7 linked regions of the Homo sapiens genome follow. The protein of the gene in region 1 purifies or fractionates together with the protein of each later gene. This does not show direct contact. Each region holds a gene or a part of one and is shown in the gene's direction. Other genes may lie near its edges. The genes, in order: TRNAU1AP, SLC25A15, ZBTB20, EXPH5, MTO1, SLC25A16 and HELZ.

Region 1 (3,500 bases):
TGGATCACTTGAAGCCAGGAGTTCAAGACCACCCTGGCCAACATGGTGAAACCTCATCTCTGCTAAAAGTACAAAAATTAGCTGGGCCTCCCAGGATCAAGCGATTCTCCTTCCTTAGCCTCCCAAGTGGCTGGGATTATAGGCGTGAGCTACCACGTCTGTCTCTTTTCTTTTTTTTTTGAAACAGAGTTTCACTTTTATTGCCCAGACTGGAGTCCAGTGGCACAATCTAGGCCCATTGCAACCTCTGTCTCCCAGGTTCAAGCGATTCTCCTGCCTCAGCTTCACAAGCAGCTGGGATTGCGGGCGCGCCATCCCACCCAGCTAATTTTTTGTATTTTTAGTAGAGATGGGGTTTCACCATGTTGTCCAGGCTAGTCTTGGAACTCCTGACCTCAGGTGACCCACCTGCCTTCGCCTCCCAAAGTGTTGGGATTACAGGTGTGAGCCACCGCACCCAGCCCTTTTTTGTTTTGTTTTTTTTTTTAAACAGGATATCCTTTTGCCAGTCCTGACATAGTTTGTTAAGAGAGACAAACCTATCCATTAAAATCTCCTGTATTAAAAGCATGGTCTCTGGAGCCATACTCTCATATTAGCTGTGTGACTTTGGACAAATTACTTAACCTCTCTGTTCCTCAGTTTCCTTATCTGTAAAATAGGAATAATGATACACTTATTGCATATGGTTGTTTTGAGGATTAAAAGAGTTAATTGGTGGCCGGGCTCCCAGCACTTTGGGAGGCTGAGGCAGGCGGATCACGAGGTCAGGAGATCGAGACCAGCCTGGCTAACATGGTGAAACCCTGTCTCTACTGAAAATACAAAAAATTAGCCAGGCGTGGTGGCACACACCTGTAGTCCCAGCTACTCAGGAGGCTGAGGCAGGAGAATCGCTTGAACCCGGGAGGCGCAGGTTGCAGTGAGCCGAGATTGCGCCCCTGTACTCCAGCCTAGGCAACAGAGCAAGACTCTGTCTCAAGAAAAAAAAAAGTTAATCGGTATAAAGCACTTAAAATAGTCTGTGGCCACATAGGCAGTGTTACGGAAATGTTTGCTTACACTTATTTTTGTTTCTGTCTTCATTTAAGGAGCCGTGTAAAGCCAGTGGAATATAGTCAGATGTACAGTTATAGCTACAACCAGTATTATCAGCAGTACCAGAACTACTATGCTCAGTGGGGCTATGACCAGAACACAGGCAGCTACAGCTACAGTTACCCCCAGTATGGCTATACCCAGAGCACCATGCAGGTAACCATGACTTGGCAAGACTGGTCCCCTTGGGTTGTGTTTCTCCTCTAGAAACAGGTCATTCTCTAGGATGGGATTGGTAAGGACAGGGGCTTGGGCTTCAGAAAAAATAGGGAAAGTTGAAGCAGTCCAGTTCCTCTTGTTAAAAATAAGCCATTGTGGGTAGGGCCCAGTGGCTCACACCTGTAATCCTAGCACTTTGAGAGGCCGAGGCAGGTAGATCACCTGAGGTCAGGAGTTCAAAACCAGCCTGGCCAACATGGTGAAACCCTGTATCTACTAAAAATACAAAAAATTAGCTGGGCATAGTGGCAGGCGCCTATAATCCCAGCTGCTCAGGAGACTGAGGCAGGAGAATCTCTTGAAACTGGGATGCGGGTGTTGCAGTGAGCCGAGATCACGCCACTACACTCTAGTCTGGGTGACAGAGCTAGACTCCACCTCAAAAAAAATAAAAAATATAAGCCACTGTGGTCCTGGGCCAGGATTTCACCATGCCCCTAACCCACATCTCTGGTCTCTTGGCAGACATATGAAGAAGTTGGAGATGATGCATTGGAAGGTAAGGGTTCATACGTTCCTTACTCTGTCAGCCATTATCAGGTGACTGCTGTGGCTGGCACTGTGCTCTCAGCTAGAGGGAAGACAAGATAAATTCTGCTCTGGAAGAACTTACATTCTGGTTAGAGAGCCAGACAAATATGTAATTATGGTAAGATGTGTCGGGTGTTACCCAGAGGTGTAAGTGTAGATCCCAGAGAGCCTGGGACAGGCAGCTCCAGGAGAGCCCATCACCCCCTTGACATGTGGCATTCTATCCTGGTATGTGGGCCTCTAACGATAATACTGTTACCCTTTTTTTGTGTGTGTGTGTGGTGGAGTTTCACTCTTGTTGGCCAGGCTGGAGTGCAATGGCATGATCTCAGTTCACCGCAACCTCCACCTGCCAGGTTCAAGCAATTCTCCTGCCTCAGCCTCCCGAGTAGCTGGGATTACGGGCATGCACCACCATGCCCAGCTAATTATTTTGTATTTTTAGTAGAGACAGGGTTTCTCCATGTTGGCTTGGCCGGTCTCAAACTCTCAGCCTTAGGTGATCCGCCCGCCTCAGCCTCCCAAAGTGCTGGGATTACAGGCATGAGCCACTGTGCCTGGCCGATAATACTGTTACCTTTTATTTGTTTGACTGTTTGTAAAATTCATTTTTTATTTATTTTATTTTTTTTCTGTTTTTCAATATATTTTAAAAGACATATTTTCCTGATTTTTAAGTCATCGTTAGGATGGAAAATTTGGAAAATATAGTAAAGTATGGGCCAGGCATGGTGGCTCACGCCTCTAATCCCAGCACTTTGGGAGGCCGAGGCAGGTGGATTGTGAGGTCAGGAAATCGAGACCATCCTGGCTAACACGGTGAAACCCCGTCTCTACTAAAAAATAGAAAAAATTAGCCGGGTGTGGTGATGGGCGCCTGTAGTCCCAGCTACTCGGGAGGCTGAGGCAGGAGAATGGCGTGAACCCGGGAGGCAGAGCTTGCAGTGAGCCGAGATCGCACCAATGGGCTCCAGCCTGGGAGACAGAGCGAGACTCCGTCTCAAAAAAAAAGAAAAAGAAAATATAGTAAAGTATAATGAAACTGAAAATCACCCCATATCCTATTACAACATAGTAATAGCCATTATTAATTTTTTCTTTTTCTTTTTTTTTTTTTTTTGAGGCAGAGTCTTGCTGTGTCACCCAGACTGGAATGCAGTGGCGCAATCTCATCTCACTGCAAGCCCGCCTCCCGGGTGCAAGTGATTCTCCTGCCTCAGCCTCCCGAAGAGCTGGGATTTCAGGCACATGCCACCACGCCCAGCTAATTTTTGTATTCTTAGTAGAGACGGGGTTTCACCATCTTGGCCAGGCTAGTCTCAAACTCGACCTCGTGATCCGCCTGCCTCGCCTCCCAAAGTGCTGGGATTACAGGGGTGAGCCACCGTGCCCAGCCCATTATTAATTTTTTAATTAAAAATATTTAAGCCTTGCACGGTGGCTCACCCCTGTAATCCCAGCCCTTTGGGAGGCCAAGGAGGGTGAATCATGAGGTTAAGAGATCGAGACCATCTTGGCCAACATGGTGAAACCCCGTCTCTACTAAAAATAAAAAAATTGCCAGGCGCGGTGGCTCACCCCTGTACTCCCAGCACTTTGGGAAGCCACGGCGGGAGGATCACCTAAGGTCGGAAGTTCTAGACCAGCCTGGC
Region 2 (3,500 bases), on another chromosome or scaffold:
TCACCTTGTACAGATGAGGACTCCCAGCTGTAGAGGCTGAAGGAGCCACACTGCAGGTAGAGCAGGCATTCACCAAGGCGTGTGTGATCCCAGGGTGCAGCTCCCACCCTTGGCTGCCTGGGTGCTCTTTTCCAGACCTACTGTCTTGTGAGATCCCCTTAGGCACCCAGCACAGGCTGCTGTCTGAATTTAGAACTGAGCCTGTTCAATTGATGGCTCAACATAGGCCTCTAAAAAAACAAGTCTGATGCGGTTTGGTACACCTGTGGTTGGCTTACTTATTTGGTGTTCGTTTTTTCAGTTTTCAGAAAGGTCAGTTGAAGTGCTGCTGGTGGCTGTAGCATTGATACACAGGGGAGGTTTTTGATCTGTGAGCTTTCTAGGAGGCAGTTGCTAAGCTGCACTGATACCTTGAGCCCCTTTCCTTTGGAACAGTGTGGACCCCAGGTCATGGCTCCCAGAAGTTTAGGTTCTGTAATTTGGCTGCAGGCCTAGAGAACAGGATGCTGCAGACTTGGACTAATGGTGAACTCTTGCCTCCCCCCAGGGATATGTGGTGCCTGTCATAAGCTCCAGAGAGCTGCCTTCCACAAGACCAGCAGAAGAGTGGGCAAACATGAAATCCAATCCTGCTATCCAGGCTGCCATTGACCTCACAGCGGGGGCTGCAGGTACAGTCATGTGCCTCATCACCATGTTTCTGTCGTTGATGGATGGTGTATCTGATGGTGGTCCCATGAGATTATACTACCATATTTTTACTGTACCTTTTCTGTGTTTAGATACATTTAGATACATAAATACCACTGTGTTATAGTTGCCTGCAACATCCAGTACAGTAACATCCTGTACAGGTGTATAGCCTAGGAGCAATAGGCCATACCGAATAGCCTAGGTGTGGAGTAGGCTACGCCATCTAGGGTCAGGTGTGTATGCTCTATGATAGCACAATGACGAAATTGTGTAATGACATGTATTTCAGAACATGTCCCAGTCATTAAGCAATGCCTAACTATAATCCCAGAGAAAACCCAGTTCTCTCTATTCCTCAACTACTCTCTAAATGAGATCAAATGAAAGTGGTATGAAAATACTACCTTTCTCCCTCCAGTACTTTACCTTTGGGATTAATCCATTTGATGGAAGTTTAGTATTGTTCAGAGAGTAGCAGAAGCTAGAGGAGTGTCCGTTATTGTTAACACCTTGTCAGTCAGGGTGATGGGTGGAAGGTGCCCAGTACAGCTGGAAAACAGCTCAGAGGTGAAGCCACGTGTCCATTGTCACCTGGCTGGGATATGCAGGTGATGTGGTTCTTCACTTCAAGCCTGGCAGTCTTCAGAGCCCTTGTTGTGCAAAAATAACACCATAGCATCTCCTGGGAAACACCACTTACTGTCCCTGCTAGTGTTGGGAAAGAAAGGAGGACACTCTTAGAAATGTCTTTAAAAGGCTGGGCGCAGTGGCTCACGCCTGTAATCCCAGCACTTTAGGAGGCCAAGGCGGGCAGATCACCTGAGGTGAGGAGTTCAAGACCAGCTTGACCAACATGGAGAAACCCCGTCTCTTCTAAAAATACAAAATTATCCAGGCGTGGTGGTGCATGCCTGTAATCTTAGCTACTTGGGAGGCTGAGGCAGGAGAATCGCTTGAACCCCGGAGGCGGAGGTTGTGGTGAGCCAAGATCGCGCCATTGCACTCCAGCCTGGGCAACAACAGTGAAACTCTGTCTCAAAAAAAAAAAAAAAAGACATGTCTCTGAAAATGAGACTGATAATGGACTGTGTCTTAGAGCCGTGAAAGTTGTAGGATTTGCTGGGAATGTCAGCTAACCTGAGCCTAGGGGCCTGAGCCCAAGAGCCTGAGGCTCCCCCAGCACAGGGAGGTGCTACCTGTGATAAGGGGTAGTGCTGGCACCATGCAGGCTACTCCTTAGAAAGATCAGCTTGAACATGCAGGAAGAGCAGGACCCTCAGGCTGGGAAACAGGGCGGAATGGGAAGTGCATGGTGGTAATTTGGTTCTCCAGAGTCCAGAAGTAGGAGGAGTGGCTGGAATACTGATTGCCCAAAGGAAAACCCTGGACTACCCTGGGCTCCCGCAGGATTCTCATAGTAGTTGCAGCTCCCTGGAGTGGGGAGGCCAGCGGGGGTGTTGCCCAGTGCTGTCCTTATCCAGCACACCCCCCACCCCCACCACCAGCAGATGAGTATGGTCATGAATATGGTCACCTCATCAGTCATTTGCTCAATTGTGAAAAAGAAATTGTTCAGAGAAGAGCAAAGTGTTTTTCCATGAGCCAAAGGTCAGCCAGGGTATGCTAATGAGGAAGACTGGAGAGAGCGCGTCACCGTCACCGAGCCTAATGAGGAGCACTGGGCAAGGGCACTTCTCCCAGGGCAGAACCCACAAGGAGCGTCCCAGCCCCAGATGCCCAGGGAACGGAAGGCCAGTGGGGGTCTGCCCAGTAGTCTCTTGCCCACTGCGTGCCTTTAGGCTACAGCCTCCCAAGCCCCTTTCCCCCTCCCCTCCCCCATGCCACACTGGGGAGGACGCTGACCCTGAGAATGGTGCAAACATCTGCCTGCCCCAGGCCGCCTCTCACCAGCGAGTGAATGCTCTTGGGCTCAGTTCTGTTTCTGCAGAAGGAGGGTGTTTAGCCACATATAGTCTCAGCTTTTGACATTTTATGTCTTTCAGTCAATCTGTCAAAGATCTAGAACCTATGGTGATAGAATTTAAAAGTTTACCTTTTCCTATTTATGTGCATACAGGTATTTGGGTACCACATTTATAATTTACAAGTTAGTTTGAAAGATAGAAATTGCAACAGTATGGTTGGGAGCCTGGTATGTAAGGCATTTGCTGGTGGGCATGTTTTGAACATGTATTGATCCCTTATGTATACTGACACACTGTCCCCATCACTGTTGGACAGGTATTTCCCCCTGTGCTGGCGACACAGGGACGCCCCTCACCGAGGTAGAGATGCTGTGGGTAGTCTTAACTTCTGAGGACAACGAAGCCCATTCCTGGGGGGACAGGATAGGGAGGGGGAGCGAGACATGGTCTATAGGTTGGGGGCTGGGCAGAGGAGGTGCCTAGCAGTGACACAGAAACCTCTGTTCTGCTGTGAGGCCTATGGAATGCAAATGGAACCCACTTTTGAGGATCTTGGAGTCTTGGAGTGCTGGAGCTAGAGAGACCTTTAGACATTGTTGGCTCCAATGCTCGTTGGATATGTAGAAAAAGGCCCACAGAGGAGCAGTAGATTTGTTCAAGGTTACACAGCAAGATGGTGTGAAGACAGGGCAGGACTGTGATCCCTGGGTCCCTTGTCTGGTGTCGTTGCTGTCTCTGCTTTAGTACTCCGTAATGCATCTGCAGCACACTGGAGGGGAGGGTTAGTTTGGAGCCTTTGGGCCCTGCCTTTCTGGATGTGGAACTTGCTGGGCTTTGGGAATTTTCTGCCAGCCATTGATAGGAGCAGAGGACCTGTTGTGT
Region 3 (3,500 bases), on another chromosome or scaffold:
CCCTCAACGTGCACATGCGCCTCCACCGGGGAGAGAAGTCCTACGAGTGCTACATCTGCAAAAAGAAGTTCTCTCACAAGACCCTCCTGGAGCGACACGTGGCCCTGCACAGTGCCAGCAATGGGACCCCCCCTGCAGGCACACCCCCAGGTGCCCGCGCTGGCCCCCCAGGCGTGGTGGCCTGCACGGAGGGGACCACTTACGTCTGCTCCGTCTGCCCAGCAAAGTTTGACCAAATCGAGCAGTTCAACGACCACATGAGGATGCATGTGTCTGACGGATAAGTAGTATCTTTCTCTCTTTCTTATGAACAAAACAAAACAACAACAAAAAACAAACAAACAAAAAAGCTATGGCACTAGAATTTAAGAAATGTTTTGGTTTCATTTTTACTTTCTGTTTTTGTTTTTGTTTCGTTTCATTTTGTACTACATGAAGAACTGTTTTTTGCCTGCTGGTACATTACATTTCCGGAGGCTTGGGTGAATAATAGTTTTCCCAGTCTCCCTCGGATGGTGGCCTTAAGGCCTGGTAGTGCTTCAAGAGGTCCACTGGTTGGATCTCTAGCTACTGGCCTCTAAATACAACCCTTCTTTACAAAAAAATCTTTTAAAAAAAAGTAAAAAAAAAAAAAAAATTTCCACTTGTGAAGAGCACTACAAAAAATATATAACAAAATCTAAAAGGCCTACTGTCTTTAAGTACACCGCTTGCAGTGTTTCAGTGGACATTTTCACAATTCTGGCCGCTTGGACTTCACAGTAACCAGTTAAAACTGTGGAATATCACTTCTGGTTGAAAACCCAGAGGAAAGGCCCTGCTGTTTTCCACCTACCACGTTGTCTGATTTCATAAAAGGGCTGTGGGGGTGGGAAGGGCAGTGGGTTCGGTGGTGTGGGAAAGAAAGACGAATGGCAGGCTTCTTCCCCAGATTCTGCCCGGGTCCACACACCCTGGCCCACCTTCTCCATATCCCCCTCTTGCAGCAGAAGCCAGGAAGACTTGGACAAGCAACAAGCAACAGTGGCTATCGTATTTATTCAGTGTCTTCGCTGAGCCACAGCCTCAGCACAATCAAGAGGGACTTTCATGAAAGGCAGGAATGCAGATAAAACAAAGATATCAGAAATTTGCACCTATGTTTCTAGGTACAAGAGAAGGATTATTTCCAACAATCTTTGCAAAAAAAAAAAAAGTGTCAGGATATATTCTTGTGGAAGAGAAAAAGAAAAAGAAATGGAGGGTGGGGGGAACAATAAAAAGTTCTTGAGGCTTTTTTAATTCAAAATTTTATAGAGGGGCAAAAGTGACGTTTACCAGATAGAATGCTGATTTTTTTAATATATTTACAACAGTATTTGTGTAAAAAAAAAAACAAAAAAAGTGAAATTGTTAAAAGTAATTTTTTTCATTTTGGTTTTGCATACACTGCCACCAATTCCTTCTCTTTTATTTTATTTCACACACATATATATATTTTTTGGTAAGTCAAGACTGTTAAGGTTAGCGATACTGCTTCCAGATAGAAAGAATAAAAGGCAACTAAAGTTATATTTGAAAGAGAGGAAGGATATTTTCTTCATATTTTTTTTAATTTTTCTTAATTTTTATTATTTTAAGTATTGCCTGGGTTGATGAGGGCCTCTGTGGCCAGCCCATCCCTGCTGTAATTTGAATTGCTGCTTTGTATTTTGATATGTAGTTCTTTGACTTTAGCAAGCTTAAGTTGCCCCACTGAATAATTTTTTCAACTGATTCATCTAGAATTCTGTTCTTTTTCATGGAAGAGACTTTATCTTTCAGAAAGAGATTGCTTGCTTCTCCAAAATTTCATTGAGATCTTACAATTCTAGAATTTCTATTGACTTTACTTTTTTTCTTAGTGAAACACTAATAGTCTAGAAGTCTTGATAAATGGGGTCTTTTCTTTTGTGATCAGCCAGGAAGAGGAGTTCACAAAACTCTGCCATAGCTCCTCACCCTTCCCAACTACAAAGAGCATCATTATGAGAAGCCTGTTATAGATCAAGATGCATTGATGCCAAAATTACTTTTTTCCTTCCAAATATCACCTTCTGACTGTTTCCACCATGGTTAAGAGGGCTGAATAAGATGATCATTCTTTAGATGACGAATTAACCCTTGCTTCTTCGAAAGGTTTTAGGGAAATTAACAAAAAAATTCCCAGATGCCAACAGCCACCATTCAAAAGACCACCAATCTATTGCATCATACCAGATGCCACTCTCTCTTCCTAGTAGGGATTTCTCTCCTCGGTCCTGATCAAGGTGTTATAATAGAGACATTTTCATTATAGACAGTGTCCTGAAGGGATTCCAGCTCAAATATAGGAATTCTTAAACCTAGCTGAAACTCCCAAAGTGATTTCATTGCTGGGCATATTTTAACATACTTAGGGGAAAGCAAATCTTTAAACAAAGCAAAACACCAAACTACAGTTTTAAAAAGAAGAAAGGAGAGCGTATTTTAGTTTCAAAATTACATTACATTTTAATTTAATTTTCCTTCTAATTTTCCTGTCAGCATTTTATTTACAAAAACTGTGCAGCAAACGAGGGAAAATCTTCCAACACAAACAACTCTGTAATGACTAAATTGGTTTTATTCATATATTTTAGACATTTGGTTAACTTGGATCTTTTTCATAAGTTCTTTGTGATGCTTTGTAAGGTTAGTGTAACTGAAGTGTTTGTGAGTTTGATTTGGTCCCACAGTGCTTAATTCAGTGGATATTTTGCTAGAAGTTTTAATGTAAACTTGGGTGGTTAACTGACTATTAAGTGTAACCTATTGTGATTTCTAAGAGGAGTCCTGCCAAGAACTGTATGTCCAAAACTGATCTGTTTTAACAGTTAGTGAGGAACAGCTTCCGAGATAAAGTAAGTTCATTTTTCTATTGCTAATTTTGCTTTTTAAAATAGCAGTGTTGTAAGACTAATATTTCCACTTACCACCAATAGAGGGAGCATTAATTAACTATGTCATGGAATTGTTTTGATATTTTGGAAAACAAGTGATTCCACCCATAAAATGAAAAGAGAAGATTGACCTTAAGAAAAAAACTCTTAAAGCTAGGAGACAATGACATGAAATCACTCAATACATGTTACAAATGAAAGAAGGCCAAAAGCCACTTTAAAATATTTTAAACTGTTTCACAGTAGATTTGAAAGTGTCTTTGTTCAAATTTAGCAAAGTAGGAAGAATTTTCACTAATACCGCCTGAAAAGTTGATCTTAGGTGCCATTATGGGCCACGTGTAGCTTTCTGTTTCTCAAATCTGAGAGAGACCCATTTGCCTTAATGCTGATTTGCCATGTAAAATGCTAAGCAATTGGGTTAGAATCCACCTTTTCTTTTGGTAGAACATGTAGAGAAAAAGCTGCAGGTGACTTGAAACCCTGAGGAGTCTATCATCCTTTCCCTGTAAAGGAAGTGTCTCTTAAAAAAAAGGGAGTGGGGGAGGAGGTGGAGGATCC
Region 4 (3,500 bases), on another chromosome or scaffold:
AGGCTCAGGTGGGAGGATCCCTTGAGCTCAAGAGTTCAAGGCTGCAGTGAACTATGATTGTTCCACTCCAACCAGAGTGACACAGTAGAGACCCTGTCTTTAAAAATAAAATAAATAAAATCATTTTTTTTTAAAAAAGAACTACAGTGTCATGCAGGGCCAGAGATGTTCTGAGATAGGTGTGAGGGTAGTTGAGTTCATCATGCAGAAGGCAGCAGCCCCACCCACAGAAAAGTTCCTGAACACATAGAACTTTCTCCTGATCTCCCCTCATCTGTACCAGACCTCTCTGGCTCCAACTTACCAGGAAAGTATTTGCATTAAATATAATAGTTAATGTTTCTAATATATAGTTTATTCAGATTTTTAAGAAAAACACCAAGATTCAAACTGATAAATAGGCAAAAGATAGAAATAAATCATTCACACCAGAAGATATCCAAACAGTAAACATAACAGATGGGAAAATGTCTACCCTCACAGTAATAAATGAAAATTGAAGTAACCTTGAGATACCATGCTGCCCCTTTAAAAATGACAGAAAAAAAAATGTTGGTGAGGGTTGGAATGAAATGGACAGATTTTGCACATTGTTAGTGACGTTGTAAGTTGATTACAAGCTTTTTGGTGAGCATTATGGCAATATCTATCAAGATACGCCTTACGCTTGACCCAATTGTCCAATTCTTGGATATTTCTCATTAGTAGGAGATTAAGGTGGAGGAGATGGCCACACCAACATATATTAAGTGCTGCCTTTTTATGTAATAATAGTAATTATTGTGGTAATAACGACAGCTAACATTTATTAGGCCCTTACTATATACTAGGCACTGTACTAAACATGTTATACAGATTTAATTAATCCTCCCAATAACCTCATTAGGTATACACTTTAATTCTCATTTCACAGAGAAGGAAACAATTAAAAAAGGTCGAGTATTTTGTCCAACTTAAGCAGCAGAGCCAGAATTTATAATCCAGATCTATTTCAAAACTACTTTACCCATCAAGATTGAATAATCCTCACAACCATTTCTTGGGGTATTATTAATGGCTTTTTATAGAAGGAAAACTGAAATTTAGCAACGTTAAGGAACTTGCCTAAGGTCACACAGCTCATAAACGTCAGAGATAGAATTTGAACCTAAATCTATCTGGCATCAGAACCAGATGTTACGGTGCCTGGAGTAATCAAGTTTTTAAATGGCATGTCTAGATTTAGACCATTTTTTGCTCCATGGCAAGATTGCAGCCCAGGAGGGTTTTCCAGAATTTAGTTTTTTCTGATTGATTTACACTAATATCCTTGAGCTGTGGCACAGGTCTGAACAGGACTGTATATGTCAAAGTCATAAAGTGGTCTATAGCTGGTGGCAGCTGCCACATCCGGCAGAGGTTAAAAGCCAGATACACAAGCCTCCTGCCTCCCCTACACATTCTGCCTGCCCTCTCCTCTCCCAGCCTGTGAAATCTGCCTCTGGCTAAGGGGCAGAGTTTCTAGAGACATTGGATGTCTACTGATTGGGCTTTTTACTGTGTGCCAGACACTGGATTGGCCCTGAGAATACAGTGGAAAATAAAACACAGATTCTGTCCCAAATGGCTTCAGTCTATGAAAGGTTTTCATTGGCGATAGAATGTGTAAGATGAACTGTAGCTCGCCCTTATGCAGTCCTGTGTGGCCTGGAAAAGGGACAACAAGAACAATGCCTGGAAGTCACAAGTGTGCTCAGGAGGCTTGAGCAAGTTCTGAAACATAACAAAGTACCAGATTAACACACCACGGATCTCTGAGCTGTCTGCACTTTCCAATGGCATCCAATTTAGTTAATTCCTTTAAACTGAGGGAGAACTTCCTCTCAGATACATTTTCCTGTCTAGTTACTCCTGTGGATTTGTCCCCACAGGCAATACACACAGAACTACTATAATAATATCGTTCCATATCCCAATGCCAAGCAGCAGTGTTCTTTTTAAGCTTAGTGATATTATAACTCTTTTAGCTTATAAAGTCTTTCATATTTTTTTATCCTCATCCTCAACCTGATAAAGCAAATACTATTATCTTCTTTTCCAAAAGCTAATAAAACAACTGTAATAATAGCTAACATTTGTTGAGTATTGACCCATGCTAAGCTCTTTGTGTGCACTATCTCATTTAATTCTTACAACAACCTGATGAGTTAAGGGATATCTTTATCTCCATTCGACAAAGGAAGCTTAGAAAGGGTAAGTGACATGCTTGAGATAATACTGCTAGGGAGTGTCCGATTTGGGAACTCCATCTGTACATAATCACTGTGCTGTGCTGCCTCCTACAGTACCAAAAAGTTGAAGTGACTTTCCTCACCTGGCCCATCTAGCTCATAACAGAACCAGGACTGGGATCTATCCACTTTAAATCTCTTGCTATTTTATCTCCATTCACCATAAAAATAAAAAACACACAATTCTATGTAGTCAAATGCTCAGCTAAAAGTTGGAGATGTTATTACTAAGGAAAATGGCATAATGGGTATGGGAAGATAACTGATACCATCTGCCTATATAGAAAAAATTGCTGGCAACCATTTATGTTAAAAATGCATATATGCATTCTATAAGGAAGACTTTATACTGTTAAAATGATTATCTTTGGGGAATCACATTTAAAGGGACTTTAACCCTTTTACTACTGTTTTATTTTTTAGTTATCATATGTTATTAAAAATAGGGCCAGGTGCTGTGGCTCACGCCTGTAATCCCAGCACTTTGGGAGGCTGAGATGGGTGGATTGCCTGAGGTCAGGAGTTTGAGACCAGCCTGGCCAACACGGTGAAACCCCATCTCTACTAAAAATACAAAAATTAGCCAGGCTTGGTGGCTGGCACCTATAAGCCCAGCTACCTGGGAAGCTGAGACAGAAGAATCGCTTGAACCCAGGAGGTGGAGGTTGCAGTGAGCCGAGACCGCGCCATTGTACTCCAGCTTGGGTAACAAGAGCAAAACTCTGTCTTGAAATAAATACATAAATAAATAAATAAAACTGTTTCTTTGGATAATAAATATGGAATGTTTGACTATTTTTTACTTTCATAAATGTCCGTTACGAAGGTAAAATACTTTTTAAAAATGTCTTTTAAAAAATAAATAACTTGTAAGGGTAAATTTCTTTTTAAAAATGTCTAAATGTTTTTCTGCCCTTGTCCTTTTCTTTACAATGTTAATGTGTGCACAGGTAAGTTGGTACATGGTAAGTTGTACATCAACCTTGATTCCTTGTGGTCAAGGATTATTTCAGGGATGGAGAGCCTCACACACTTCGGTACTCAATACCTAGTCAAATGGAACTTAACTTACTGCTATAGGCAATACAAACTAAGGGAAAGAAAGATCTGAGGAAACCAGGTGAAGGGCGAAAGAAAGTCAGGTGAAGGTTAGTCAGAAAATACTTTCATTCCTCATTAGCACAGATGGTCTTAAACCTGAGAACCACATGAAGGTCAAAAGGAGGTCAG
Region 5 (3,500 bases), on another chromosome or scaffold:
ACAGGCATGAGCGACCGCACCTGGTCAAATAGGCGTTTTTTGTTTTGTTTTGTTTTGCTTTTTGAGATGGAGATTCAGTCTTGTTGCCCAACCTGTGGTGCAATGGCACGATCTCAGCTCACTGCAGCCTCCGCCCCCTGGGTTCAAGCAATTCTCCTGCCTCAGCCTCCCTAGTAGCTGGGATTACAGGTGCCCGCCGCCATGCCCAGCTAATTTGTTTTTGCATTTTTAGTAGAGACAGGGTTTCACCATGTTGATCAGGCTGGTCTTGAACTCTTTTTTTTTTTTTTTCTTTGAGATGGCATTTCACTCTTGTTGCCCAGGCTGGAACGCAACAGCACAATCTCGGCTCACTGCAACATCCACCTCACGGGTTCGAGCAATTCTCCCGCCTCAGTCTCTTAAGTAGCTGGGATTACAGGCATGTGCCACCACACCTGGCTAATTTTGTATTTTTAGTAGATGGGGTTTCTCCATGTTGGTCAGGCTGGTCACGAGCTCCCGACCTCAGGTGATCCGCCCGCCTCGGCCTCCCAAAGTGTTGGGATTACAGGTGTGAGCCATCGCACCCAACTGGTCTCAAACTCTTGACCTCAGGTGATCCACCTTCAGCCTCCCAAAATGCTGGGATTACAGGCGTAAGCCACCATGCCCGGCCTAAATTAAGCTTTTGAAACGATATCAGGTGGTGCTGCTGGAAAGGCAGCCGCCCCCTTGCCCATTACACAATGCATTTTTATGGAGAACCCGACACTGAACCATTCTTAGATGACCTGCTTCTGGGGTGGGATTTCAGACATAGCAGAGCAACTTCCTCGCTGCGATCTATTGAAAGTTAACCCTCAGCTGGGCGTGGTGGCTCATGCCTGTAATCCCAACAGTTTGGGAGGCTGAGGCAGGTGGATCACTTGAGGTCAGGAGTTCAAGACCAGTCTGGCCAACATGGTGAAACTCCATCCCTACTAAAAATAAAAAAAAAATAAAAAAATTAGCCAGGCATGGTGGCTCATGCCTGTAATCCCAGCTACTCGGGAGGCTGAGGCAGGAAAATTGCTCGAACCTGGGAGGCAGAGGTTGCAGTTAGCTGTGATTGTGCCACTGCACTCCAGCCTCCAGCCTGGGCAACAGCAAGACTCCATCTCAAAAAAAAAAAAAAAAAAAGAAAGTTAACCCTCAACGCATATAATTTTATTTTAAAAAGACGGAGAAAAACAAAAAAAAGTAAGCAACATCGAGAAAAAGTTGTAAGACTTTTCTCAATGTAAGAGTTTTTTCACAACAAACTCCTATAAACCATTGAACGTCACTCACTGTTAATATTTTACCATATTTATCGCTATAGATATATCAATTTATGTCCATATTTACTGTGTAAGATGGTAATATACACATTTATTCTTATTCTTTTTTTTCTGGAATATTTGGGAGTAAATTGCAGAGATGATGAGCTCTTACCTTAAGCCTATATCTCAACTAAGCACAGAGACATCCTTTTATATAACCCTTATGCAATGATGAAATTCAGAGTACGATGCAGGGACAATAAAATTTAAATTTTTTTTTTTTTTTTGAGACGGAGCCTCACACTATCCCCCAGGCTGGAGTGCAGTGGTGCAATCTCGGCTTACTGCAATCTCGCCTTCTGAGTTCAGTCAGTTCTCATGCCTCAGCCTCCTCAGTAGCCGGGATTACAGGCACCCGCCAACACGCCTGACTAATTTTTGTAGTTTTAGTGGAGACAGGGTTTCACCATGTTGGGCAGGCTGGTTTTGAACTGCTGTTCTTAAATGATCTGCCCGCCTTGGCCTCCCAAGTGTTAGGATTACAGGCATGAGCCACTGCGCCTGACCAAAAAATTTTTTTAAAGACAGAAAAGAGTCCAGGCGCAGTGGCTCATGCCTATAATCCTAGCACTTTGGGAGGCCAAGGCAGGTGGATCACTTGAGGTCAGGAGTTCAAGACCAGCTTGGCCAATATGGTGAAACCTCACCTCTACTAAAAATACAAAAATTAGCTGGGCATGGTGGCATGCGCCTGTAATCCCAGCTACTCAGGAGGCTGAGGCATGAGAATCGCTTGAACCAGGGATGGGGAGGTTGCAGTGAGCTGAGATTGTGCCACTGCACTGCAGCCTGGGCAACAGCAAGACTATGTCTCAAAAAAAAAAAAAAAAAAAAAAGAAATTCGGAGAATTTAACACTGATACAGTGCTATTATCTAACATAAAGTCCGTAGTCACATTTTGCTAATTGGTAAATATTGTCCAAAGCAGCTTTTTTTTTTTTTTTGAGATAGGATCTCACTGTGTTGCCCAGGCTGGAGTGCAGTGGTGCAATCTCAGCTCACTGTAACCTCCGCCTCCCAGGCTTGGATGATCCTTTTACCTCAGCCTCCCAAGTAGCTGCGACCACAGGTGCTCACCACCATGGCTGGCTACTTTTTGTATTTTTTGTAGAGATGAGTTTTTGCAGTGTCACCCAGGCTGGTCTCAAACTCATGGACTGAAGGGATCTGCCTGCCTTGGGCCCCAAAAGTGCTGGGATTACAAGTATGAGCCACCAAGCCTAGCCCAAAACAACCTTTTTATTCCCAATCAAGGGTCATGCATTGCGTTTAATTGTCATTTCTCTTTAAAGTCTTTTATCTGGAACAGTTTGTCAATCTTTAATGGTGCCGACATTTTTGAAGTGTAGAGGCCACTTTTACCTATCTCTCGAGTTTTAAAAAAATGTGGCGTGGCATGGTGGCTCACACCTGTAATCCCAGCACTTTGGGAGGCCAAGGCAGGTGGATCACAAGGTCAAAAGATTGAGACCATCCTGGCCAACATGGTGAAACCCCGTCTCTACTAAAAATACAAAAATTAGCTGGGCATGGTGGCATGCCCCTGTAGTCCCAGCTACTTGGGAGGCTGAGGCAGAATTGCTTGAACCCGGGAGGCAGAGGTTGCAGTGAGCAGAGATGATGCCACTGCACTTCAGCCTGGCGACAGAGCAAGACTCTGTCTCAAAAAAAAAAAAAAAAGTATATTGTATGTGTTTAAGATTGAGGATGAAGAATTGGCCAGGCACAGTGACTCTCACCTGTAATACCAGCACTTTGGGAGGCCAAGGTAGGAGGATCACTTAAGCCTAGGAGTTCAAGACCAGCCTGGGCAACATAATGAGACCCTGCCTGTACAAAAAAAAAATAATTGATGGTCCTAGTTTCTGGTGAGTGTTATCCTGATGTATGGCTTCAAATATTCTGTTACTTTGAGCAAGATACTTTTATATATTTGCTTTGGTAGTATGCAAATTATGATAACCCTTTCTTCTTTTTTGAGACAGAGTCTTGCCCAGGCTAGAGTGCAATGGTAATGGCGCAAGCTTGGCCCACTGCAACCTCCACCCCCTGGGTTCAAGCGATTCTCCTGCCTGAGCCTCCCAAGTAGCTGGGATTACAGGCACCTGCCACCATGCCTGGCTAATTTTTTGGATTTTTTTAGTAGAGACAGAGTT
Region 6 (3,500 bases), on another chromosome or scaffold:
TGTTAATATTTTTTAGATTGCTATAGTTTAATATAATTTGCTATTATTATAAATAGAATTTGCTGTAATTTGTAGTTGTTTCTACAGTAGGTTTTATATTATATGGGGTGTGCTTATTTATATTATTTGGATATATGATGCATTTTTAGTAGGTTTAACTGTTTTATAGAAATTACTATTCATGTAATCCCTCAAGCAAAATTATATCTTGAGTGATGGCACATTAATCTTTATCTGTGATTGTCATGAAAATTTAGGTTTAGATAATTTTCTCTGTTTTAACAGCATTTTTCCTCTAAAAATAGGAGTATTTTCTGCATTGCGTGCTGTTCCTCAAAAAGAAGGATTCCTTGGATTGTATAAAGGAAATGGTGCAATGATGATTCGAATCTTTCCCTATGGTGCAATCCAGTTTATGGCATTTGAGCATTATAAAACGGTAGTTAAACTTTGATCTTTTCTCTTTTGCGTTCTTGAATATCATGCATGCTTGACCAGGCATTTGCTTTGGACATTTAAAAATATGTAAAAGTTTCATATTTTTAAAAAGTTAAATTATTGGTTTTTTTTTTTTAATTTTTGAGACAGAGTCTCGCTGCCCAGGCTGGGGTACAGTGGCACGATTTTGAAAGGCTCACTGCAACCTCGCCTCCTGGGTTCAAGCGATTCTCCTGCCTCAGCCTCCTGAGTAGCTGGGATTACAGGCCTATGCCACCATGCCTGGCTAATTTTTGTATGTTTAGTAGAGACAGCGTTTTGCCATTTTGGCCAGGCTTGTCTCAAACTCCTGGCCTCCCAAAGTGTTGGGATTGCAGGCATGAGCCATGGTACCAGGCCAAAAAGTTACTTTTGATATAGCAATGCCTTTTTAAAGGAATAAGACTTGTGACAGCTTAAGATTTTAAATATAACTTGTCTTTGGAATTACCGATTCCAGAATTGTTAGTCATTTATGAGTTATTTATTTATTTATTTATTTAATTTTATTTTTTGAGATGGAGTCTCACTCTGTTGCCCAGGCTGGAGTGCAGTGGTGCACTCTTGGCTCACTGCCACCTCCATCTCCTGGGTTCAAGCAGTTCTTTGCCTCAGCCTCCTGAGTAGCTGGAATTACAGGCGCCCGCCACCACACCCAGCTAATTTTTGTATTTTTAGTAGAGATGGGGTTTCACCATCTTGGCCAGGCTGGTCCTGAACTCCTGACCGCGTGATCCACCCGCCTCCGTCTCCCAAAATGCTGGGATTACAGGCTTGAGCCACCGTGCCCGGCCTTTATTTATTTATTTTTTCAGACGGAGTTTCACTTTTGTTCCCTAGGCTGGAGTGCAATGACATGATCTTGGCTCACTGCAATCTCTGCCTCCCAGATTCTTACAGGCATGCACCACCATTCCTGGCTAATTTTGTATTTTTAGTAGAGGCGGGGTTTCACCATGTTGGTCAGGCTGGTCTGGAACTCCTGATTCAGGTGATCTGCCCACCTTGGCCTCCCAAATTCTTGGGATTACAGGCATAGCCACTGCACCCGGCCAAGTAAATTCTTTATGTTCACTCCTAATGAATGAGAGCTAGAATATCTTTAAAGAAGATAATAATAAATCCATATAATATTAATATATTTTTAATGTGTTTCCCTTCCCTCCTTCCCTCCCTCTTTTCTTTTCTTTTCTTTCTTTTTTGAGATAGTTTCTCTGTCACCTAGGCTGGAGTGCAGTGATGTGGTCCTGGCTTACTGCAGCCTCAACCTCACGGACTCAAGCAATTCTCCCACTTCAGCCTCCTGAGTAACTGGCACTAGAGGCATGTGCCACCACCCCCGGCTAATTTGTTTTTTCTTTCTTTTTCAGAGGTGGAGAAGAGGCCTGGCTGATTTTTTAAAAAATATTTTGTAGAGATGGGGTCTCACTGTGTTGCCCATGCTAGTCTCGAACTCCTGGGCCCAAGCTATCTGTGGGCCCCAGCCTTTAGTGTGCTTTTTGTTACTCAATTGTAGGAGAGGAACACTGTGACTTTGGATTTTCTTATTAAACAAAATAGTGAAACTGGCTGGGCACAGTGGCTCATGCTTGTAATCACAGCACTTTGGGAGGCCGAGGTGGGAGTATCAGCTGAGGTCGGAAGTTTGAGACCAGCCTGACCAACATGGAGAGACCCCTTCTCTACTAAAAATACAAAATTAGCTGGATGTGGTGGCGCATGCCTATAATCCCAGCTACTCAGGAGGCTGAGGCAGGATAATCGCTTGAACCCGGGATACGGAGGTTGCAGTGAGCCAAGATCGTGCCATTGCACTCCAGCCTGGGTGACAGAGTGAGACTCCGAATCAAAACAAAAAACAAAAAACAAGGCCGGGTGCGGTGGCTCATGCCTGTAATCCCCAGCACTTTGGGATGCCGAGGCGGGCGGATCACAAGTTCAGGAGATCGAGACCATCCTGGCTAACATGGTGAAACCCAGCTACTCAGGAGGCTGAGGCAGGAGAATGGTGTGAACCCAGGAGGCGGAGCTTGCAGTGAGCCGAGATCGCACCACTGCACTCCAGCCTGGGCGACAGAGCCAGACTCTGTCTCAAAAAAAAAAACAAAAAAAACACAAGCAGCAGAGATCGGAACAACATTCTAAGCTAGTCAGCCAAAGAGAATTGATGCCATTTGTGTATCAGGACTTCATTGTCTATAGAGCATTTAAAAAATAAAATAAAAAATTAGGCTGGGTGCGGTGGCTTCAGCCTATAATCCCAGCACTTTGAGAGGCCGAGGTGGGTGGATCACCTGAGGTCAGGAGTTCGAGACCAGCCTGACCAATGTGGTGAAACCCCGTCTCTACTAAAAAATAAAAAATTAGCCGGGCGTAATGGCACACGGCTGTAGTCCCAGCTACTTGGGAGGCCGAGGCAGGAGAATCGCTTGAATCTAGGTTGCAGTGAGCCGAGATCGTGCCACTGCAATCCAGCCTGGGACACAGAGCGAGACTTCATCTCAAAAAAAAAAAAAAAAAAAAAAAAAAGTAGCAGTTTATTCCTACTACCCCCAGTCACTTGTTAAGGGCTTGTGTTCCTTAATACACAGTATCATATACTTAGCAATACTAAGCTAGCTTGCTTCTGCAGAAATGCAAAAAATTAAAGCAGAGACTACAGAGGAAATATCCCCTTCTGCTGTGATATAACACTGCCAAGCTGTATTTAATTGTGCTCATTTCGTTCACATTTATTATTAATTTCCTTTTTATTAGTCCTGTAACTCTTGAAATAAATCTTCATTATTAAACAGTGAAATGGGCAGCATTTAAAAAATATCTCATTTAATTCAGTGTTCTTGTTTTCTAGTTAATTACTACGAAGCTGGGAATTTCAGGTCATGTGCACAGATTAATGGCTGGATCCATGGCAGGTAAGAGGAGTTAGGTATATTTTATTTCTGACAAATTAATTTTCTATTAAAATATTTAATTTGGTTTAGATTATATGAGTGCCATTGGGGAAAGCACAGGTTGCAGGT
Region 7 (3,500 bases), on another chromosome or scaffold:
TTATTTTTTTGAGACGGAGTTTCGCTTTTGTCACCTAGGCTGGAGTGCAATGAATGGCACGATCTCGGCTCACTGCAACCTCCGCCTCCTGGGTTCAAGCAATTCTCCTGCCTCAGCCTCCTGAGTAGCTGGGATTACAGGCGCCCGCCACCATGCCCAGCTACTTTTTGTATTTTTAGTAGAGCCAGGGCTTTACCATGTTGGCCAGGCTGGCCTCAAACCCCTGACCTCAGGTGATCCACTCGCTTCGGCCTCCCAAAGTGTCAGGATTACAGGCGTGAGCCACCGCACCCGACCTAAAATTATTTTTAAATTAATTTTCTTCCTTTTTTTTTTTTTTTTTTTTTGAGAGACAGAGTCTTGGCAGTGTCGCCCAGGCTGGAGTGCAGTGGTGCAATCTCAGCTCACTGCAACCTCTGCCTCCCAGGTTCAAGCGATTCTCCTTACCTTAGCCTCCCAAGTAGCTGGAATTATAGGTGCCTGCCACCATGCCTGGCTAATTTTTTTGTATTTTTAGTAAAGACGGGGTTTCATTATGTTGGCCAGGCTGGTCTCAAACTCCTGACCTCATGATCCACCTGCCTTGGCCTCCCAAAGTGCTGGAATTACAGGTGTGAGCCACCATGCCTGGCCATGAATTTTCAGTACTTGTCTTTTGTGAGATATCTTCATCCGCAAAAAGCTTCAGGTCTTTTTTTTTTTTTTTTTGAGATGGAGTCTTGCTTTTGTTGCCCAGGCTGGAGTGCAATGGGGCGATCTCAGCTCACTGTAACCTCTGCCTCTTGGGTTCAAGTGATTCTCCTGCCTCAGCCTCCCAAGTAGCTGGGACTATAGGTGTGCGCTACCACGCCTGACTAATTTTGTATTTTTACTGGAGATGGGGGTTCACCATGTTGGTCAGGCTGGTCTCGAACTCCTGACCTCAAGTGATCCACCCGCCTTGGCCTCCCAAAGAGCTGGGATTACAGGTGTGAGCCACTGTGCCGGGCTAGCTTCAGCTCTTAATAAAATGACTTTCCATCCTCCCTTTTGCACTCTGGCTAAGACTTAAAAGAATATCTCCAGCTATTTTTTTACTCATCTGGTTTAAGCTGGACTTTTTAGCTTTGTGTTTTTTGTAGTTAAAAAAAAAATCTATCTACATTTTGCTTTTAATTGTTCTCAGGTCTCCTGGCCCCTGGTTCTTTGATTGTCTGAGTCCACACTGCCTTTTAACTGATACAGTCCACTGCTAAGTCAGCAAGTTAGCCTTGAGAATCCCAGAGACTTTAATGTGGCAATATTGTATATTTTTAGGGTTTACAGTGAAACTTGGGCTGACTACTTGCTGATTGGTTAAAGTAATAAATAAGTAAATTGTTAAAGTAATAAATGTTAAACTAATAAATAAATCAAAAAAATTGTTTTTTTTCGAGACAGAGTCTCACTCTGTCGCCCAGGCTGGAGTACACTGGTGGGATCTCGGCTCACTGCAACCTCTGCCTCCTGGGTTCAAGCGATTCTCTTGCCTCAGCCTCCCTAGTAGCTTGGGACTTTGCCATGTTGGTCAGACTGGTCTCGAATTCCTGACCTCAGGTGATCCACCCGCCTTGGCCTCCCAAAGTGCTGGGATTACAGGCGTGAACCACTACGCCCGGCCAGGTTCTTTGTTTCTTGAGTGTTCGCTTGTTTTGCATGATTTGTCTCCCACGGGTTCATAGGGATGATCAGAGGACCAATTGAGGCAGTTGGCTGGTCCTTGAAAAACTGGGGTTTGGGTTAGTATAGGTCATCATGACCAAGGAGAGTATGAAAACACTCAGTCAAGGCCAAAGTGAGCAGTAGAAGGGAGGGGTGGTCCTTTTGAGACTTTATCAAGCTTGTGTCCTGGAACCCCTTCATTTCCTTGGTAGGGTAGAACTTTATTATTTAATGTTGAATAAATTGATAATAAATAAATTGTTAAATGTTGGGTTATTATCCTAAGACAATTGATTTTCTTTTTGGCATTTCATTTCAAAATATACATTTTAAAATTCATTTTAAATTATGATACATTATAGTTTGATTTTTAAAAACTTACTATATCATGAAACATTTACATCTTATAGATTTTATAATTTAACTTTATATATTGAAAGGCTGCAAAAATAATTTCATCAAGTCATGCTACAATTTACCTAAGTCTTTTTATGTGAAGTATTTATACTGCTGTCTGGGTGGTTTTCAGTTAACACTTTAATCTACATCATTGTAGATACTGTTGCATTTTTTCTAATGATATCTTAAGGATAAATTTTGGAGTGTGTTATTATGTTAAGGGGTATCAGTGTTTTTATGGCTCCTCACATATATTGTCCTACTGTTTTCAAGGGTGTTATACCAGTTTGTGCTCCTAACAGATATATGGATATACCTGTTTTACCATAAGTAGTAGAGAAAACCATTTTTCTTCAGAAGTTTTTGTGAATTTAATAGTGTAAAATGGCACTTTCATTTCTTTGTTATATAATGTTGAATTTAACTATTTGAGCCTCTTTATGGTGAACTGTTTGTTGATATCAGTTGCTATATTATGCAATTAACTATTGTAGGCTTTGAATGGTAAGGCTGGTATAATATGGTCAGTAAAAATTGTTCACAAGAGTGTGTGGTCGAGGCTGGGTGCAGTGGCTCACGCCTGTAATCCCAGCACTTTGGGAGGCCAAGGCGGGCGGATCAGGAGGTCAGGAGATCGAGACCATCCTGGCTAACACGATGAAACCCCGTCTCTTCTAAAAATACAAAAAATTAGCCGGGCGTGGTGGCAGGTGCCTGTAGTCCCAGCTACTCGGGAGTCTGAGGCAGGAGAATGGTGTGAACCCGGGAGGTGGAGCTTGCAGTGAGCCGAGATAGAGATAGCACCACTGCGTACAGCCTGGGCAAAAGAGGGAGACTCCGTCTCAAAAAAAAAAAAAAAAAAAAAAAAGAGTGTGTGGTCAAAATGGTAAATGATCTTGGGAAGAGTGTTTGAAGGGGAACAGATGGATTATTCCAGGATTCAGTTCAGCAAGTATTTATTGGGCATCTGCTGTGAGCCCCTTTGTATCACTGCTCCTCTGAGTGGTTCTCAAGTTCTTGTGATGGCATGTGCTGGGTTGAAGCAGGACACTGCTTGAGGCTTGACCATTTGTGGGTTCTGGCTTCTGTTGTCTCTCTCTTTTTTTTTTTTTTGTGAGGGAGTCTCGCTCTGTTGCCCAGGCTGGAGTACAGTGACACGATCTCGACTCACTGCAGCCTCCGCCTCCCTGGTTCAAGTGATTTTCCTGCCTCAGCCTCCTGAGTATCTGGGATTACAGGTGCGCACTACCATGCCCTGCTAATTTTTGTATTTTTAGTAGAGACGGGGTTTCACCATGTTGTTCAGGCTGGTCTTGAACTTCTGACCTCGTGATCCACCCGCCTTGGCCTCCCAAAGTGCTGGGATTACAGGTGTGAGCCACCGCGCCCGGCCTTCTGTTGTCTCTTTGTGGCTGCTTGGA

What was found.
Region 2: the proteins of TRNAU1AP (region 1) and SLC25A15 purify together in Homo sapiens (affinity purification with mass spectrometry; one large-scale study listed by BioGRID and IntAct). This does not show direct contact.
Region 3: the proteins of TRNAU1AP (region 1) and ZBTB20 purify together in Homo sapiens (affinity purification with mass spectrometry; one large-scale study listed by BioGRID and IntAct). This does not show direct contact.
Region 4: the proteins of TRNAU1AP (region 1) and EXPH5 purify together in Homo sapiens (affinity purification with mass spectrometry; one large-scale study listed by BioGRID and IntAct). This does not show direct contact.
Region 5: the proteins of TRNAU1AP (region 1) and MTO1 purify together in Homo sapiens (affinity purification with mass spectrometry; one large-scale study listed by BioGRID and IntAct). This does not show direct contact.
Region 6: the proteins of TRNAU1AP (region 1) and SLC25A16 purify together in Homo sapiens (affinity purification with mass spectrometry; one large-scale study listed by BioGRID and IntAct). This does not show direct contact.
Region 7: the proteins of TRNAU1AP (region 1) and HELZ purify together in Homo sapiens (affinity purification with mass spectrometry; one large-scale study listed by BioGRID and IntAct). This does not show direct contact.

The regions. Positions count from the first base shown.
Region 1 is NC_000001.11:28,570,085-28,573,584, forward strand, and holds part of TRNAU1AP (tRNA selenocysteine 1-associated protein 1), read left to right. Parts: intron 1-1,091; coding exon 1,092-1,254; intron 1,255-1,782; coding exon 1,783-1,816; intron 1,817-3,500. UniProt on the Homo sapiens protein: Involved in the early steps of selenocysteine biosynthesis and tRNA(Sec) charging to the later steps resulting in the cotranslational incorporation of selenocysteine into selenoproteins. Stabilizes the SECISBP2, EEFSEC and tRNA(Sec) complex.
Region 2 is NC_000013.11:40,792,611-40,796,110, forward strand, and holds part of SLC25A15 (mitochondrial ornithine transporter 1), read left to right. Parts: intron 1-547; 5' UTR 548-616; coding exon 617-671; intron 672-3,500.
Region 3 is NC_000003.12:114,335,789-114,339,288, reverse strand, and holds part of ZBTB20 (zinc finger and BTB domain-containing protein 20), read left to right. Parts: coding exon 1-284; 3' UTR 285-3,500. UniProt on the Homo sapiens protein: May be a transcription factor that may be involved in hematopoiesis, oncogenesis, and immune responses. Plays a role in postnatal myogenesis, may be involved in the regulation of satellite cells self-renewal.
Region 4 is NC_000011.10:108,587,269-108,590,768, reverse strand, and holds part of EXPH5 (exophilin-5), read left to right. Parts: intron 1-3,500. UniProt on the Homo sapiens protein: May act as Rab effector protein and play a role in vesicle trafficking.
Region 5 is NC_000006.12:73,475,237-73,478,736, forward strand, and holds part of MTO1 (5-taurinomethyluridine-[tRNA] synthase subunit MTO1, mitochondrial), read left to right. Parts: intron 1-3,500. UniProt on the Homo sapiens protein: Component of the GTPBP3-MTO1 complex that catalyzes the 5-taurinomethyluridine (taum(5)U) modification at the 34th wobble position (U34) of mitochondrial tRNAs (mt-tRNAs), which plays a role in mt-tRNA decoding and mitochondrial translation.
Region 6 is NC_000010.11:68,503,524-68,507,023, reverse strand, and holds part of SLC25A16 (solute carrier family 25 member 16), read left to right. Parts: intron 1-305; coding exon 306-439; intron 440-3,328; coding exon 3,329-3,392; intron 3,393-3,500. UniProt on the Homo sapiens protein: May be involved in the transport of coenzyme A in the mitochondrial matrix. Very little is known about the physiological function of this carrier.
Region 7 is NC_000017.11:67,235,197-67,238,696, reverse strand, and holds part of HELZ (probable helicase with zinc finger domain), read left to right. Parts: intron 1-3,500. UniProt on the Homo sapiens protein: May act as a helicase that plays a role in RNA metabolism in multiple tissues and organs within the developing embryo.